Regions from separate parts of the Homo sapiens genome. Here region 1 is linked to region 2. Evidence: fine-mapped expression QTL. A gene starts in region 2. The other region holds a variant in brackets. All regions are shown on one strand. Distances are from middle to middle. Region 1 overlaps LINC02030 (long intergenic non-protein coding RNA 2030). Region 2 holds the start of LINC02030 (long intergenic non-protein coding RNA 2030).

The links. PIP is the estimated chance that this variant, and not a neighbour inherited with it, causes the effect. A credible set is the group of variants that fine-mapping cannot tell apart.
Region 1: its variant is the best candidate, but not a certain one, in a credible set for the expression of LINC02030 in skin (TwinsUK, PIP 0.76).

What each region holds. Positions count from the first base shown.
Region 1 is chr3:55,296,889-55,301,289 of GRCh38, forward strand. It overlaps LINC02030 (long intergenic non-protein coding RNA 2030), which reads left to right. Exons shown (of 6, transcript NR_183750.1): 6 at 2,366-4,059. All of the region lies in intron 1 of LOC124906243 (a long non-coding RNA gene), which reads right to left. Among named protein-coding and RNA genes, the nearest start is that of LINC02030, 72 kb to the left of the region's middle. The variant A/C (reference allele first, on the strand shown) is at 2,164.
Region 2 is chr3:55,225,014-55,229,414 of GRCh38, forward strand. It overlaps LINC02030 (long intergenic non-protein coding RNA 2030), which reads left to right and starts at 1,842. Exons shown (of 6, transcript NR_183750.1): 1 at 1,842-1,955. The region is part of intron 2 of LOC124906243 (a long non-coding RNA gene); the gene reads right to left.

The DNA of each region.
Region 1 (4,401 bases), 72 kb after region 2:
CTTCACAGGGCTGTAGGAGAGAGAATGAGTGCCAGCAGGGGAAAAATGCTAGGCACTTAAGAAACCACCAGATCTCATGAGACTCACACACTATCATGTGAACAGCATGGGGAAACCACACCCATGATTCAATTACCTCCCACCGGGTCCCTCCCACAACACATGGCAATGATAGGAACTACAATTCAAGATGAAATTTGGGTGGGGACACTGCCAAACCATATAACATATCTAGAAGCTCATATGGGCCATAACAGGCATTCTAGAAAGCTCTTTCTGAATGATTCTCCCTGAAGTCTTGTAGTTCTGTGGCAGTGCCTTTAAGTACGCCACCATAGAAAAGGGAAGTTTTGGTCAATTTTTGTAAATTCCATGTGTGTGACAAGAATGAGTGGTCTCTGTTAAGTACAAAGATTGTATACAAACATACACATATCAGGCGAATTACTGTGGAAGTCAAATCCAATTTATCTTTGTTTAATTTTGATCTCCTTGATGGACTGGTTTTTGAGAAAGTTCTGGACCGTTTCCCACACTGACTCTTCACTCAACCATTTATCCTCATGTTTCTGTCATATCTTTACACAGCAAATCCCAGCTAGTCCTCTCCTAAGTACACTATTCTGTTCCCAAGTCCTCTGGTGCCTGAAGCTTTCTCATTATCATGAGAGCAAAATAATGTGAGTGTTAAGGCCCACAAAGCAATAAAGCATGATTGTGAAGAGCAGAAGCTTTGCAGACAGACCCAAGTTCAAACCTTGGCACCATCACTTCCCAGCTTATGAACTTGGGAGGCTAACTGACTTTCTCTGAGCCTCAGAGTTCCTGTCTGTAAAATGGGAAAATTAACACCGGAAGTTAGGGTGGATTCAATGAGACCACGCATGTAAAGCAGTTATCACAGAGCTGGGGAGAGGAACCGGTAAGGATTTAGTAAATGCTAATTTTGTTAGTAACAATAGACAACATCTGCATGGCAGCAGATCTTCACCTTCCTGAGAGTGCTTAATATGTTCTGGGCACTAAGCCAAGTGCTTCAGTTGTATCAGCACATTTAATCCTCACAGCAAACCCATAAGAGTGATAGGACGGACATCACCATTTTACAGAGGAGGCCACTGGGGCACAGAGGGATGAGGCAGCCCACCCAAGGTCACCAGTGAGCGGTTGCTCCTGAACTGCACCTCCATCATGGGAGCATGGGAGCCTGGGCTCATCTTCTGATGACAAAGTCGGTCATGGAACTAACAAGAAGACACACCACAAAAAGGGACTCTTTGTCCCACATCCCTTTCTGTGACCTCCCAGAAGTGCCCCGCAGCACCAGACTCCACTCTGGGTGGCTACTGTGGTTCTTCTTTTGTGTCTGGGAAAAAAGGGTGCTCGATAGGATCCAGCTGCCAGCTCACTACAGCCCAGCCCTCCTCCGGTACTCCCAGAACAGCTCTTGGGTCTAGGACAACAAAGCCCTTATTGGTCTCATTGTTGCAAGTGTAGTTGGAAACATCTGAGATAAAGCTGGGATGGAAAACCGAGCAAACTGTTAAAATCTGCACAATAAAAAGGCACAATCAGGACACACTTAGGGATAACATGTTACACTTCCAAAAATTAACACTGTTGGATGAAAGCCCCAGCTTCCCAGTTTTAGTTCATTTTAGAAAAAAAATCTACAATACATAAATATACTCCCACTGTAAAAAAATAAAAAACAAAAGCCAAACAATCAATAAGTATGAGGAATAAAATGAGAATGTTGACCATTATGCCTCCGTCCACCCTGAACCCACAGCTTCCAGTGGTAACCATGATCAATAGAGTAGATATACCTCCTCCCAAGCTTTTTCCTTTGTAATAAATGCATATATATGTACACATAAACATGTTTCATTTGGAAAATATTGTGTTTCCACACAAATGGTGTCACAATATGTGCATTGTCTGCAAACTAGCTTTGCTTATTTTATTCACTTAACAATAGGTTTGGGGAGTGGGACTTGGGGAGAAATAGGTTTGGAAAATTTTGCCAAGTCTGTGCACACTTAAATTGACGTTATTCTTCATGAATGACCGAAGTGTTTCCCATGGTGTGGTGCTACCATAATAATTTATTTAACCTTGTCCTTCTGAATGGACATTTGGGTTGTCATGGGGGCAAGCTCT[A/C]AGATGACCCCCTCCCCATGATCTCTACCTCCTGGTATTCATGCCCCTGTGAAATCCCTTGCCCTTGAGAGTGGGCTGGCCTCATGACTTTCTTCTAATCAATAGAATGGAGCAAAAGTGATAAGATGTCACTACTGTGACTAGAGTACAAGACATTGTAACTTGCCTCTTGCTAACAGACTCTTCTCTTGCTGGTTTACAGAAGGGCCCATGTGGCAAGGAACTAAGGGCAGTCTCTGGCCAAAAGCCCACAAGTAACTGAATTCTGCCAATAACCATGAGTTTGGAAGTGGATCCTTCCCCATTCGAGTCTCAGATGAGTCCCCAGCCCTGGCCAACATCTTCATGTGCTGTGAGAGACCATTAAGCAGAGGACCCAGCTAAGCTCTGCCCAGATGCTCAATCCACAGAAAAAGATACTAAGTGTGTGTTGTTTTAAGCTGCTACATTTGCAGTGGTTTGATATGCAGCAATAGATAACTGATACTGCTGTTAATTGCTTTCTATTACAATCAGCTGGAATAACTGCCCTTGTGCCTACAATCAGAGATGTATTTTGGGATCAATTCCCAGACCTGAGATTGTTCAGTCTAAGGGTAAGGATATTTAATGTGGAAAAATAACACTAAATTGTCCTCCAAAAATATTATCAAGTGACAATCATGCAAACAGTATGAAAGTTCCTACTTCTCTCCATGTTCTTGCCAAATGAAGTGTCATTGATCATTGAAAAAATATCAGTTTGAGAAAAATCAGTACTGCATTGCTTTGATTGCATTTTCCTGATCACTTATCAGGGTGAGCATCTTTTTAACGAATCCCTTGGCCATTTATTTTCCTCTTTCTTTTGAGACTTCTCTCTTGATATTTTTAGCTTTTATCCTATTTTAATTGGATTTCAATTGGATTGAACAACTAGAATGATAGAATGATATCTGGGGGGCACACAATGGCCATTGGTGATGCTGCTGTTGATTACCCAAAGTGCTATCCCATTTCTTCCTGTGTATTTACTACTATTTCTCTTGCAGTTAATAAGCAATTTATGGGAAGATTCTTTGAGACCATTCAAATATCCTGCACCTCATTAAAATATCCCCCTGGATTTAGCAGCCTTTGATGATTCTTGCCTGAACAAAACTTTATTATGGTAGATGTAAAATGAAGATTTTCATTTCTAGCACTTCTTCCACATTTACCAGCTACATTCAGCCTTCTTGTGGATAAGACTCTCCCCTTTCTCCCAAATGTTTATTGTTTTTATTAGTATGGACTCACGATTTCCTGTTCTTCTCAATGGCCTATAATTTATTACTATCTTTAATTATATTAGTGCTCAAATTTTCCCAGTTTGGCCAGTGGGATCCCCTCCAAGTTGGCTATTATTTCCTTGTGACATACCCACTTTTTCTTTCTTTCTCTTTCTTTTTCTTTCCTTTTAAAACTCACTTCTTTACTTCCTGCTCCAGCCCTGGAATCAGCCATTTCTCTGAAAAACTGTGGTTCTTTCAAGTGGACAAAGGTATTAGAGACCAAAATTTGGGCACAAGATATGCACTTTAACAAGGACCCACTTTAAGTGCAGTTTAGTGAATTTGAATGAATGCATGAACTTCTGTAACTACTACCACAATCAAGATATAGAGTTTCTGTCACCTCTCAAAGCCTCCTTTTCTTGCTTGCTCATATGCAATTACCTCTGTCCAAAATGACCCTTTCCCTTTCCTCTACACACTTGGCAAAGCCATGATTGAACATTTATTCCTTCTTAGATTTTGTTCCATTTTCCTCAGCAAAGGTTCTTTGTTTCCTCTTCTTCATGCTCACAAAAGAGAGAGTAAAAGTGCTTGCTCAACAGTTCTTCAACTGCTCTAATAAAGATTGATTCTCTTACCAGTTTTGTGTCCTTGGGAGTTAATCAGCCTCTCTCTCTGTCCATTGATTTTCCATCTGTAAAATGGGTCACTCTTGAACTGGTCCCATATCCAACACATGTAAACCTGTCAATGTAACCTACAAAATATCTCTTGGATCTTTGCCCTTCTGGACAGCTCCACAGCCACCACTCCAGTACCTCTCTTTTGAAAATCTGTCTGGTCTCCCAAATTCCACCTTTGGGCTCATTCTAATGGATTCTCTACAACACAGCCAAAGTCATCTTAAGAAATGCCCATCATTTCTTGATTGAAAACTCTTAATGGGTTAGGTATAGAAGGAAAGTTCCTCAATATAACAAAA
Region 2 (4,401 bases):
TAATACAATTTAAAATTAATAGAGTTGACTGAAAAAAAGATTAGTGTGTCTGAAATCTAAGAAAAAGCAAAACAAAACAAAATCTACTACCAGGTAGACCGTGGGTAAAATAGAAAACAAAAGGAGGAATTGCAGCAGACTTCTTGCTTAATGACAATGAAAGCCATTTATGTCAGCATTTGTGGGATGTAGCTAACACAGTTCTCAGAGGACAGTTTATAGCTTTGAATATATTCTCAAAATAAAGATTGAAAATTAATAAGCTAAGTGGTTATTTAAAGATGGTAGAAAAAGGAAAATAGAGCAAGCCTCCCCAAATAAGAAATATGGCAATATGAAGAGGCATAAATCGATAAAATGGAGATGAGTATAACAATAAACAAATACAGATCTTAACACACAAAAGTCAGACTTTTTAGATGACTACTAAATAACCCTCTCTGGTAACAGTTTTTTTCAAAAAACAGGGAAAAAGGGAGATGAAATAAAGAATACGGAATAAATATAGGGACAAGTTAAATAATATCAGTCATATTCTAATATATTTGCAAACCTAGAAAAAACAATGTTTATAAAAAATGTTAAAATGTACATAAACTTGTATTATTTAAAGAAATTAAAGTGATAATCAATTCGCTCCTACTCCAAAATGACACGCATAGAGGGTTTTAGAGATGAGGTAAGGAATATGCAGTTGTTATACATGTTGTCCCAAAAAGTCAAAAATGACGAAGTCTGGACAGATTATTTTGTGAGGCTAGTATAATTCTTTTTTTTTTTTTTTTTTTGAGATGGAGTCTCACTCTGTTGCCCAGGCTGGAGTGCAGTGGGACAATCTCAGCTCACTGACACCTCTGCCTCCCAGCTTCTAGCAATTCTCCTGCCTCAGCCTCCCGAGTAGCTGAGATTACACATGCACACCGTCACGCCCGGCTAATTTTTTGTATTTTAGTAGAGATGGGGTTTTGCCGTGTTGCCCAGACTGGTCTCAAACTCTTGAGCTCAGATAATCCACCTGCCTTGGCTTCCCAAGGTGCTAGGATTACAGGGGTGAGCCACCGCGCCTGGCTGAGGCTAGTATAATTCTAACAGCCAAGTCACACGAAACAAGTACATGACAAAAATAATAGCACAAGTCAGCTTCTAAACTTAATTTTTTAAATCTTCAATAAAATACATCCTATTTATTTCTGAAAGTATATTAAAATGACCATGACTCAAGGATGGCTTAAAATAAGAAAACCCAGCAATATAACTTCTTTTTAATAGACTAATAAAGTTTAAGGTTGCAATAGTAATAGAGAAAGCATGCAGTAAATTTCAACATGGAGAGATGAGGATGGTTAATGGGTACAAAAAATATTAATAGTTAGAAAGAATGTATAAGGTCTAGTATTTGACAGCACAACAGAGTGACTATGGTCAATAATAATTTAATTATACATTTAAAAATAGCCAAAAGAGTATAATTGGATTGTTTGTAACACAAAGGATAAATACTTGAGGGGATGGATGAACCATTTTATACGATGTGATTATTTCACATTGCATACCTGTATCAAAACATCTCATGTTCCCCATAAAAATATACACCTACTATATACCCATACAAGTTAAAATTAAAAATTAAAAAATTAAAAAAGCCAAAAATAAGTTCAACATCCATTTCTGGAAAAAAAAACTTTAGAAAACTAGACTATAAAGGAATTTCCGTAATCTGATAAAGTTTATCTATCAAAATTCATTGAAAACATCATTTTAATGAATACGCTTTACAAGATTTTAGAACTATTTTTTTTCAGGTCAGGACAAAGAAAAGAATTATCACCATAACAACCATTATTCAAAACATCTGGGGCTGCACGGTGGCTCATGCCTGTAATCCCAGCAGTTTGGGAGGTCAACATGGGTGAATCACTTGAGGTCAGAAGTTTGGGACCAGCCCAGCCAATGTGGTGAGACCCCGTCTCTACTAAAAATATAAAAATTAGCTGTTAGTGGTGGCACACACCTGTAATCCCAGCTACTAGGGAGGCTGAAGCAGGAGAATTGCCTGAACCAGGAAGGCTAACGTTGCAGTGAGATGAGATCATGCCAATGCACTTCAGCCTGGGTGACAAAGTCAGTGAGACTCTGTCTCAAAACAAAAACAAAAACAAAAACAAAAAAAAAATTTGGAAAACAATAAGAGAATAAAAATCAATAACACTACTAATGTGCACCTACTAAAGCAAATTTCTATTCAAAAGTATAAGATAATTTGAATTGTCAAATTTTCTACCTTGTGGCTGGGTCCGGTGGCTCACGCCTATAATCCCAGCACTTTGGGAGGCTGAGGCTGGCAGATCACCTGAGTCAGGAGTTCAAGCCCAGTCTGACCAACATGGTGAAACTTCGCCTCTACTAAAAAAAAATACAAAAATACTTAGCCAGGTGTAGTAGTGGCACCTGTAATCCCAACTACTTGGGAGGCTGAGGCAGGACAATAGCTTGAACCCAGGAGATGGGGGTTGCAGTTAGCTAAGATCATGCCACTGCACTGCAGCCTGGGCAACAGAGTGAGACTCCGTCTCAAAAAAAGAGAGAAAAAAAAATTCTACCTTGAATTATCAATTAAACTGGGATTATCTCTTAGCTAACTTAATAAAGACTACACAGGATCTTTATGAAAAATGTTAAATTTTATTCTAGGACATAAAAGGAGGCCTACATAAGGATCATGCCCAGGGTTGGGGTAATTCAACATTAGAATGTTATCAATATTTCTCAAACTAAGTTGAAAATTAATGCAATTCCAATTAAATTTCAAGGTTTTTTTTAAAAAATAGATTCTAAAATATGTATGGATAAATAAAGGTCTGTAGATATTAAATAATATTTTGAAAGAGAAGAGCACGAAGATTCTTCCTGCCAGGTATTAAGAAATATTAAAAAGCAGTAGTAATTAGGATAGTATGGCAATAAAATAGGGGCAGGACTGAAGACAAAGGTAGCAGATCAGAATACTCATGTGGACTCCCGGGTGCCTCCAGGAACTTGGCATATTACAAAAATGGCATCACGAATCAATGAGAGAAAGAACTGATTATTTGGTAAATAACCTCACTCTATGGCAAATTAAAATTTAATTGCTACTTCCCTTCAAATAAAAAATAAACTCTATATGCAATAAGAATCAAATGTGAAAGTTAAAAGTATAGAATTAATGAAGAAAGTGTAAATAATATCTTTATGACTTTGGAATAGGAAAGGATTTCTTAATCAAGACTCCAAAACATAAACTCTAAAGAGAAAAACCAATGACTTAGCTCGGGCATCAAAATTAAACATTGATTCTCAAAGGTGACCAAGTTAACAGGCAGGGGACACACAGCCACTCCAAGAGGTGAGTACTACCCTTACTCCCACTTTACAGATGAGGACAATGAGGTTAATTAACTTGTCCAAAGTCCCACAGCTAGTTAAGTATAGGGCTGAGATTGGAACCCCGATAACCCGGCTGAATCCAGTCTGTGCCCTTAACTACAGTTACACAGCCTTCTAGGATTTTTCTTGCTGATGTCAAAGGAAGAGAGAATGTCAGGGAAGAAAGGGTCAATGATGTCAGAATACTGCAAAGACAGCAAGGAGAGGCTACTGAATTGAATACTCCAGTGATTTCTGAAAACATCATTTCAGGGAGGGGCAAAGGTGAAGGCTATAATGGGGTTGTAGGGAAATGACCAGCCAGTGGGAAAACTCAACCTTGTAAACTCTAACTCTAGAAAGTTTGAAAAGGAATCATCTTTCTTCTTAATATGAGCCACTGTAGTGTTTTGGGGTTTGCATTGTAATAGTATATTTTAAAAATTTTTTGGATAATGCTATTGATTGTGAACAATACAACGCTTATAAAATTCATGATCCTTACTCTCTAGAACAGATTCTCCACAAATTCAGGGTGTCTGGCGAGTTATGGCCAAAGCCATTCTCAATAAATTAGTTTTCAAACTAGCATCTCCAACTAATATTTTCCACAATGTGCAACCCCCATTCTTCTTTGCAGTAAGGCGTTGGAATGAAACCATACTCTGTTTGTTCTCTAGCTCACATTATGACCTGCTATAAAAAGAATTAATATTCATAAATCTTTTTTACTGCACTAATCTCAGTGTTTTAAAGTGGTGATTACCACCTGACATGGGGGCAGGCCAAAGACTAAAGGAATCTTCAGAGAGCACAAGACCCTATTCCCTCATGAGTGTTCAAAGAGGAAAGTGATGGAAGGATTCACATGTTGAACCTGGGCATAAACATGAACATTTTGAGGAGGCTTTCTATAAGTTTTCTAGATACCTTGGGGTAAAAGTGTCCTGAAATTTTTTTGGTAATGTCTGGGAACACAAGCAGCAGTATTAAGCA